Regions from separate parts of the Homo sapiens genome. Here region 1 is linked to region 2. Evidence: fine-mapped expression QTL. A gene starts in region 2. The other region holds a variant in brackets. All regions are shown on one strand. Distances are between the middles of the regions.

Region 1 (5,385 bases), 170 kb after region 2:
GCCACAAATAGCTATCATATTGGCTAGCACAGACTAACAGTGTCTCAAAAAACGAACATTGAGGTTCTTCAGTATTACAATGTGAATTCTTCAGTATTACAAACACGGCTTTGGTAAGCATTACTGTACCCACATCTTTGTCTTTCATGCCAGCATTTTTGTAGGCTAGATTCTTGTATGTAAAAATGCTGGTTGCTTAGGGGTTTGCTTTCACACTTCGTGAATGCTACTACACAAAACTGTAAAAGAGCTGTAGTCATTTCCACCCACTACGTGTGAAAGCTCTCATTTCCCCACATTCTCAACAATATTGTGTACCATCTACATTTTTAGTTTTTGAAATTTGATAACTGAAAACGAAGTATGCCATCTGTTTCCGTTATCAGTTTATTGCTCTCACCTCCGCACGCACTCTTCAATATACGCTCCCTGCTAAAGGGATTCCCCCGAAGGGTTCCTGCGCCTACGCACTCGGAGCACAGGTTACAACTTCCAGAAACCCTTGGGACGCGCCGTCCCAAACTTGGGTTTCTGGCGTCTCCTGCGTTTCCGGCCCGGGACTACAATTCCCACAGGTCACTGGGCCGAATGAGCGTGCGCTCCTGATCCGCTTTGCGCATCCCAGTGATTCTTGGGTTCCGCGTGTAGTTTCGGAAGGAGACATCGAAGCAGGGCGAGGCGCAGAGGGCGTTGCGGACTCATGCCCCAGTCGGCAGTGCGGGTAAGGGTGGGAGAAGCAATGAGGCGAATGCGAGCAGCCGAAGAAGGCGACAGTGTGGCTGGGTATGAAGACTTGAGGGAGGGGGTGGGGCAAAACGAGGTCAGGCGTCTCCCTGGCCGCGTGTGATGGACCGTCCGTGGTGGTGACAGACATGGTGTAGGGGGTGTGTGCAATATTATGTGCGTGATAGAGCCAAGGATGTGCCCTACCGTGCGAATGGTGACGTTGCGTCTGTATGAGAGTGCACGTGCCACGGCTGGGATGTCTTGTGACACAGGGAATGGGGTGTGTGTGCATCTGTGCACATGAAATGGCCAGGGTATGTCTTCGTGACTGCATGTGTGCTCATGACACAGCAGGTGTGTTTCTCTTTGTATGACAGACTGTGTGTATGTGTCAAAAAGAAGAAAGTGCTTGGTGTATGACAGGACTGGAATGAATCTGTGACTGTGACACAAGTGTGTGGGTTTGTGTGTAGAGTGACAGCTGGAGTGTGCCCTAGACAATCGAGCTTTCCTACAGGAATGGTGAAGTCTTTTCCTTCTCTAGCTACACAGTATTGTCCAATAATTGAAGTTTTTAGGACCCAGAAGTTGCTAATTTGGGCCTTCTGAACTGGAATTGGGTCAGGAACTGGATCAGTGGGCACCAACTCTCTAGCTTCCCAAGGCCATCAGTCTCCCATAGTGGTTCCCTCACATACATAACAGAAAGTAACATTGAGGAAATGAGCTACACTTTCCGCTAGCTGGAGAAACAAGTTCTTTTGTCCTTTTTGGAAGCTCTGGTGTTGGCAGATTCGGCTCATCATAAAAAGTTTGAAACACTGGTTTGGGAGAGTGCCTGTGTACCTCCCCTCAAACTAAAAAGGCAACTTGGGGGTTTAGCCCTGACCCATCGATCTCCAGGGTTACACGTTCTCCTTTTTTCCAACGGGGGTCTAGGGGATTAGTGGGTCATGAGTTAGAGGCCTGTGAAAATTGTGCCTATTGACCATGTGTTATTTAAGCTACTTAGAAAAAGGACAGAAAAGACCCGGTTCACCTTCAGAAAAAGGAAGCCAATCCCTCCTGTGCTACCGGTCACTGTAACCCGCTAGAACTAATAATCACTAATCTCCTAGACCCCTCGGGAGGCTGAGGCAGGAGACTCGCTTGAACCCTGGGGGTGGAGATTGCAGTGAGCTGAGATCATGCCACTACGCTCCAACCTGGGCAACAAGAGCAAACTCCATCTCAAAAAAAAAAAAAAAAAAAGAAGAAGAAGAAGAAGGGAAAAATGAAAAGAATGAAGGCTATGTCCAACTTGAAGTTAGAACACAGAATAATAGAATAAATACAAAGAAAGTTGGTTGAGGTCAACAATAAGCACAAGTTAAAGAAATAGAAAACACTGATGCAATAGAGGCTAAATGCCAACAACTGCTTATTTGAAGTGATCCATTTCTGAGATAATTAAAAAATAGATTATTTCAAAAGATGAATAAAAAAGAGAACAGGCACAAATAATATTAAGAAAGAAAAAGACTACACAAGAATAGAAAATATTTTTTGAATTAGAATAAATTTGAAAACAGATGAAATGGTCAATTTCCTAGAAAGCTATAACTTAAAGAATTGACAAGAAGAGACAGAAACTTTTAATAATAGACAATTAGTCATTAATGATACAGCATCAGTAGTTTAGAATTTAAACTCTAATCATCACCAGGCTCAGATAATTGCATGCAAGAGTTGAATTAAGAAAGAGTTCAGACACATCTTATGTGTCACTTCAGATCCTCTCAGCCTCACCTGTGCCTGGGGCCTCTGGAAACTTGTTTCTCTTGATTCACTGCTGCAGCAACATCCCTGCATGAACTCAGAACAACTCTACATGGGCACAAGCAGCAACGAAACCTGACCTCATGCCTGCAATGGGCACTACTTGTCTCA[A/G]GCCCCAGGGCTTTCCTGTTGATGCTGATGCATGAGACGTTACAGAACCCATTGAACTATTCACACGCGACCTGGAAGTACAGCGGAGTTAATAGTCTCTGGGACAAACATTTCATGAACCAGTGGATGAATTCACCTCCCTTCTTCTCCTCAGCTAGGTGGTCTTAAAACACAAAATTAAACAATCAATTACACTTGATAGCAAGCAGTGGCCAGCTCAGTAAGACCTTCATACAAGTGTTGTCTCCTTCCCTACCACACTATACTTTTCCCTCTCTCCTGCTTCCCTGGAACTGTACCGGCTGATAAAATAATAGCACAGAAACTTCTTCTCAGGGTCCTCCCTGTAGGCAATGTAAGCTAAGAGGAGTGTTTCCAGGAGAGACCCTCAAGATCCTTGTGATAGGATTTCAAGCTTGTTACTTATCCATGTTTGGCCCAAGTCTGATCTCACAGTGAGTTCAGTAAGTCCATGAACTCACCCTATGGTTGTTTTCCTCTATCCTTTAACATATATTTGGGATAGATATGCTCATCTTCTGGTAGAACTCATTATAGTGGCTTCCTAACTTGTGAACTAAGAGTACTTATGGGCTGGGCGCAGTAGTTCATGCCTGTAATCCCAGCACTTTGGGAGGCCAAGGCGGGTGGATCATGTGGTCAGGAAATAGAGACCATCCTGGCCAAAAAGGTGAAACCTCATCTCTACTAAAATAAAAAAATTACTTGCGTGTGGTGGTGCACACCTGTAATCCCAGCTACTTGGGAGGCTGAGGCAGGGGAATAGCTTGAACCTGGGAGGCAGAGATTGCAGTGAGCTGAGATGGCGCCACTGCACTCCAGCCTGGTGACAGAGTGAGACTCCATCTCAAAAAAAAAAAAAATAAATAAAGTCCTTATGGTATAAAGAGCCAAGTGGAAACCCTTGAAACTCAATACTGTGCTGTGGGAGGAATTGCAGAGATTGCATCATCATCAAAATTTAGAGGATGCAGGATTATTTGTCCCTATCATACCTCCATTCATTTCACTTGGCCCCTGCAAAAAACCTGCATGACTGAAGCTAGTGGATGTGGTAGATTGAAAAAAAATCCCACAAATTCTTCCCATTCCTGTGTGTATATTCTTTGCAACATGACTTTGCAGCTCTTCCCTTCAAAGGTGGAGTCAATTTCTCCACTCCTTGAATCTGGGAATGTGCATTTGATTTTCTTTGAGACAGTAGTAAATGTGACATATAGAGGTTTGAAAAACACTCACTGAATGGAAACTGCTTTCTTGTTGCATTTTGAACCCAGCTCCCATGGGTTCATGCAAGCGTGAACTAGACTGAGGGATGATGAGAAACATAAGGCCAAGTCATTCTCATGCCCCCTCCCCCACAATAACCAACCAACCATTAGAACTTTGAGTGAGGCCTGACTATACTATGCAGCTGCAGCCAAACCAGCCCAGAGCAAAAGAAATGCTCAGAAAGCCCCCAGAATTGTGAGAAATAATATTCGTAATTTCAAGCCTCTGAGTTTTGGGGTTACTGATTGTTTTCGTCTGTTTTCATGCTGCTGATAAAGACATACCCAAGACTGGGTAACTGATAAAGAAAAACAGGTTTAATGGACTCATAGTTACACATGCCTGGGGAGGCCTCACAATCATAGCAGAAGAGCAAAAGAGAACAAAGAGACATCTTACATGGCAGCCAGCAAAGAGAATGAGAGCCAAGCAAAAAGGGTTTCCCCTTATAAAACCATCAGCTCTGATAATACTTATTCACTATCATGAGAACGGTATGGGGGAAACCACCCCCATGATTCAGTTATCTCTCACCGGGTTCCTCCCACAACATGTGGGAATTATGGGAGCTACAATTCAAGATGAGATTTGGGTGGGGACACAGCCAAACCGTATCACTTATTATGTGGCCAAAGCTAATTCATAGTGACTACTTTAAATGTAAACAAATAGCAGCTCCAATTTCAGCTGCTATGTCAGATGTGACATCTTTACTGGAGTTGACCAACCTAGTTTTTGGTCCTTAGTATGTGCTTAATGATCTGACAAATGTATTTTACTTGATCTCTGACATTTAGGAGAATTAAAAGCCATTCATGTGTGCATGGTAAGGACTGCAGCACTGTCTTGCCCCAGGTTCCTGATAACCCTCCTAATCTCCGTCATATTGTAGTCCACAGAGGCCTTGATCATCTTTACATTCTGAAGAACATAGCACTGGTTCATTCCACCAATAAAATCATGCTAATTTGACCTGGTGATCAGGAAGTGGCAATCACTGTAGAAGCCATAGTAATGCAAATGAGTGACAGAAAGAGGGAGATAAACCTCATGAATGTTCACTAACTTACCACATCAGTGAAGATTTTAGAAGTCCAATCATCTGGGACATGCCATAGTATCTCCCTTAAGGTAAAGAATAAGTTATTACAACTCACACTTCCTAAACTGATAAACAGGCACATAATTTGGTAGGGCTCTTTGACATTTGAAAGTGATAGATACATGATAGGTAGATAGATAGATAGATAGATAGATAGATAGATAGATAGATAGATAGAGTGGGGCGTGGTGGCTCACACCTGGAATCCCAGCAGTTTGGGAGGCCAAGGCGGGTGAATCGCTTGAGGTTAGGAGTTCGAGACCAGCCTGGCCAACATGGTGAAACTCCATCTCTACTAAAAATACAAAAATTAGGCATGGTGGTGCACACCTGTA
Region 2 (5,385 bases):
TAGTATTTGGCTGATGGCCACCAACAAAGCAAACAGGAAAAATGTAAACAATCGGCAAATTTGGGTAAAGAGTATATGAGAATTCCTTATACTATTTTTGCAACTCTTCTACAGCTTTGAAATGATATAAAAATGAAAGGTTTTCAACTATCAGGAAATAGTCATAAGGATGATAACAATGGGGGCTGGGCGCCGTGGCTCACACCTGTAATCTCAGCACTTTGGGAGGCCGAGGTGGGCGGATCACAAGGTCAGGAGATCGAGACCATCCTGGCTAACACAGTGAAACCTCGTCTCTACTAAATATACAAAAAAATAGCCGGGCATGGTGGCCGGCACCTGTAGTCCCAGCTACTCAGGAGGCTGGGGCAGGAGAATGGTGTGAACCCGGGAGGCGGAGCTCACAGTGAGCCGAGATCGCACCACTGCACTCCAGCCTAGGTGACAGAGCGAGACTCCGTCTAAAAAAAAAAAAAAAAAAACACAAATGGGAATAATATTGGATGAGCATGACATAATATGGCAGTTTACTAGTTTATTCTCTATTAGCAGTATTTAAAAATTTCCATAGTTAAAGAAATATGGGAAAACACATTAAGATATTATAACAATTTTTTTAAATGCTTATAAATAAATATACAATAGACACAGAGAAAGACTAAAAAGAAACGGAGGAGAACTGGAAGTTCCATCTCTTGTATCAGACAGTTAGCACCTTCACATCTTGGATTCATGGGTAATTTAAAACATGTTTTCTCCTCCTATTAATCTAATTTTAAAATGCTCCACAATGATATGGTTCCACAATACAAAATCCTTATAAAAAGTGAAACAGGATGTTGACAAATTTTTAAAAGACTCCTACAGAAGTCCAAGTCTATGAGCCTTGCTCTCAAGGTCCCTTCAATCAAGTCCTAACTCTCTTTCCCCACCTGATTCCAGCTAGTTCCTCTACCTCAATGAAAATGTATCCAAGGGATGATCAACTCAGGCTCTGACCCAAACTGCCTAGGTTCCAGCTCCAGCTGTACCTCATTCTACTGGGAACTAAGCACCAGGTGTCTCACTCCCATATTTAAAATGGAAAAGAGCGACCGGGCGCGGTGGCTCACGCCTGTAATCCCAGCATTTTCGGAGGCCAAGGCGGTCGGATCACGAGGTCAGGAGTTTCAGACCAGCCTGACCAAAACGGTGAAACCCCATCTTTACTAAAAATACAAAAATTAGCTGGGCGTGGTGGTGCGCACCTGTAATCCCAGCTACTTAGGAGGCTGAAGCAGGAGAATCGCCTGAACCTGGGAGGCGGCCTATTGCACTGAGCCCAGATCGCGCCACTGCACTCTAGCCTGGGCGACAGAGCGAGACTCCGTCTCAGGAAAAAAAAAAAAAAAAAAAAAAGAAAAAGAGCAATACCTTTCCACAGAGCCATGGTGTGGCGTAAATGTATTTATTTCCATAAAGCCCTTAGAATTAAGTTACCAATTAAGGTTTAATTATTATCAACACCCATGCCCAAGGACACATCCTATACACTCTTGGTTGAGGTGAACATCTCTGTAAAAGAAAAAACCGGCCCGGCGCGGTGGCTCACACCTGTAATTCCAGCACTTTGGGAGGCCGAGGCAGGCGGATCACTTAGGACCACAGGTTCGAGACCAGCCTGGCCAACATGGTGAAACCCCGTCTCTACTAAAAATACAAAAATTAGCCGGGCATGGTGACGCATGCCTGTAATCCCAGCTACTCCGGAGCTGAGGACAGAGAATCGCTTGAACCCAGGAGGCGGAGGTTGCAGTGAGCCAAGATCGCGCCACTGCTGCACTCCAGCCTGGGAGACAGAGCAAACCTCATTCTCAAATAATAACAATAATAAAAACAGACTAACAAAATAAATAACTTTTTTTTAAAAAGAGAAAAGCCAAAGACCACTCGTGTAGACAGCTTTGTCCTCAGTAGCCAAGTCCCTCCCTGCAGCTCTTTTAGAAAAGTCAGGCTGGGGAAGGAGAAAGCTGTCAAACACTCTGCGTCGCCGTCCCGGATACAAGTTAAATGCTCCTCTCCCTTCGTGAAACGTGGATGCAACCCACGCCTTCCTAAAAAGAGGTCAGAGGCGTCCGGGATCATCCAGAGCCCTGCCGGGCTCCAAGAGAAGGGCCGGAGCAGCTGGAGCTCTGACCCCACCCGGGCACCTGACCACTTCGCGGGAAATTAACAGGACACCAAGTGACAGGAGCTGTTAAGTCTTTGTTTTATACCACAACTTTCAACTCCTAAAACAATTCTATCAGGATGGTCCTGAAATCCTCATTTAAAAAACGGCAATGGGAGGTACAGGGAGATTAAGTAACACCCCACGTTATATCGCGAGAAAGAGGTCGCACACTTAAGAGTGGAGGGAGGCGGACTGAACGAGGTCAAACACCTGGAAAACCCTCTAAACAGGCACACAAGACTAGACAGAGTTCTTCCCCGCCCCCCCCGAACCCCCGACGACTCCTCCGGTGGACCTGAGTACAGCCCCCAACGCCAGAAGGCTCCATCGACGGCAACGAAACTTCCCTCCCACCCCTCGCATCTCCAAACCTCAGGTCTTCTCCAGGGCTTCTTACCCCCTTAGTTGACCCCCCAGGTCGTTAGGCGCCCCTAATAACTGGTTCACTTTCGCAAAGACCCGCAAGACACATACTTGGCTCAAACCACCTTGTTAAGTAGCAGTGTCCTGCTCGGAGACCGGAAGTGTCGATGATGCCACAGGCGTCTGGACTACACTTCCCAGAATCCCCCGAATCCGCCTGCCTGAGCCAAAGTTCCCACGACTCCACAGAGCAAATGGACTCCACTTCCCAGAATTCACAGGTCCTCCTGCCTGGGCCAAAATTCCCACGCCTCCCAAGCTACTCGCGAAACGCCTGCGGGAGCCAAATTTCCTGCGCATCGACCGGGCAATTAGACTCCCGCAGGCGTTTCGCTGGTATCTTGGGAAATGGAGTCCATTTGCTCTGTGGAGGCGTGAGAATTTTGGCTCAGGCAGGTGGACCTGTGAATTCTGGCCTATCAACCTATATTTTTATTTTAAAAAAATGGAGTCTCATGTTCTATATCAATTTTTCTAAACTAAAAAAGAATACTTTTCATGGTTTTCTTTAGATAAAGTGACTGTGCCAACCACAGTATGAGGAACACTTCTCTGAAAATTGAGTGACTGCTATTTCTAAACCAGTTACAGCTGTATCCTTGCTCTGTTCTGCCCTCCCAAGAGATAAAAATTTATTGACACGCTCAATCGTAGTAGGCAGGAAACTGTGCCTAATATATTAGGGTATATCTGGCATCAAAGGCCCTTTCTGTCCCCCAGGTCCTTGCACTCTGGGCCTGTGATGGGAGGAGAAGCTGCCATAATCTGTGAAATGCCTTTGGGGTCATTCTTCCATTGTCTTGGACAATAGGTCCTGGCTTCAGTTGACATGGCCAATCCATACTAAATTCATGAATTAGTTAGTTGCTTAACCATACCCTTGTATTCTTCAGGTTTCCTGTTTTTTTTTTTTTCCAAAGTAGATAGGCTGTAAACTTTTAAAAATTTTAGTTCTGTTTCCCTTTTAATTAATAATTATTTCAGTCATTCCTCACTTCGTGCCTTTCACTACGGGTAGTCAAGATGATTCAAGCAACTTCAACACTTTGATTAGAAATTAATTCAGATAAACAATTATATCATTCACAAATTCTACCTTCCATAAAACACTAGCACCTGAATATAATTCAGCCAAATTCTTTGTCCCTTTATAACAAGAAGCTCTCTTCTCTTCCAATAACATGTTCAACATTTCTGACTGAGGTCTTCAGAATGGCCTTTACTGTCCATATTTCTACCAACATTCTGATCATGACTACCTAGGTATGCTCTAACAAGATTGATGTTTTCTCTACAGTTCTTATTCTCTATTTCTGAGCGCTAACCAGAATTGTCCTTATCAGTCCATTCATGGCAATGTAGGCTTTTCCTAGCATACATGTAAAAACTCTTCTAGACTCTATCCATTACATAGTTCCAAAGACTGCTACATTTTTAGGTATTTGTTGCAGCAGCAAGCCCACCTCTCAGTACCAATATTTTTTAGTCACAAAATATCATAGCCTGCCTGGCTTTTATTTTATTTTATTTTATTTTATTTTATTTTATTTTATTTTATTTTATTTTATTTTTGAGACGGAGTCTTGCTCTGTCGCCCAGGCTAGAGTGCAGTGGCGCGATCTCGGCTCACTGCAAGCTCTGCCTCCCAGGTTCATGCCATTCTTCTGTCTCAGCCTCCCGAGTAGCTGGGACTACAGGTGCTCGCCACCATGCCCGGCTAATTTTTTTGTATTTTTGGTAGAGAAGAGGTTTCACCGTGTTAGCCAGGATGGTCTCGATCTGACCTTGTGATCCGCCCACCTCGGCCTCCCAAAGTGCTGGGATTACAGGCGTGAGCGACCACGCCCGGCCGGCTTTTAAGCAACAGAAATCTATTCTTCACAGATCTGGAAACTGGGATCCAAGATCAAAGCACTGGCAGATTTTGTGTCAGGTAGTTGGCCACTTTCTTGTTCATAGTTAGCACCATATTGCTGTGTCTTCATTTGGTTGAAGTGACAAACAAGCTCCTTCTGGCATTTTTTATAAGGGTATTCATCCCGTGACCTAATCACCCTCCAAAGGCCCCACCTCCTATTACCATCACATTGAGGGTAAAAATTACAATATATGGATTTTGGTGGGCCACAAACATTAAGACCATTGCATACGCATCATGCAGTGTCAGAGTTACTAATTCATATCATTGTAAAAAACAATGCAAAAGTAGAGTTCAACATTTTTTATAGTTCTTTTTGTCTTTAGACTGAGGATATATAGTCAAACACTGTACTGTTTAATAAGTTGCTTAAATTACTTCTTGCTGTCACCTTTAGACTGTTTATGTTATTGATTTGAAATACATTTAGGTTAATTTGTTATTCTATGATTTTCACTTTCCTAGTTTATCTACAAAGAAATCTCATTCTTGATTTTATATTATTGGGTATGTCAGTCATCAACATGTTCCCATGAGTCAATGCTCTACCACATATTATTCTCAGAGAAGTGCCACTCCCCTCCTTCCTACCCCTAAACCAATTCCACAGTGTTGCCACCTAACACCTTTATGTAACTAATTTTATTATTTTCATTACCACTTTTTTTTAACAGAATAGATGTGTTTCTTATTTTTCCTTTTTACTTAAATGTTAGGATAGTACACTTCTAATTCTTCTATATTCACATAATAACATCTTGGAAATCATGTCATATGGAGTAATTTATTTTTAAAACTGCATAAATTCCATTGAGTGGTTTATATAACAGTG

Evidence for each region. PIP is the estimated chance that this variant, and not a neighbour inherited with it, causes the effect.
Region 1: its variant is the best candidate, but not a certain one, in a credible set for the expression of ZNF155 in whole blood (INTERVAL, PIP 0.50).

What each region holds. Positions count from the first base shown.
Region 1 is chr19:43,815,876-43,821,260 of GRCh38, reverse strand. It overlaps a transcript of LYPD5 not described here. Among named protein-coding and RNA genes, the nearest start is that of ZNF283, 8.8 kb to the left of the region's middle. The variant A/G (reference allele first, on the strand shown) is at 2,656.
Region 2 is chr19:43,981,547-43,986,931 of GRCh38, reverse strand. It overlaps ZNF155 (zinc finger protein 155), which reads right to left and starts at 2,744. Exons shown (of 5, transcript NM_198089.3): 1 at 2,687-2,744. It also overlaps a transcript of ZNF221 not described here. RefSeq lists a silencer at 2,848-3,047.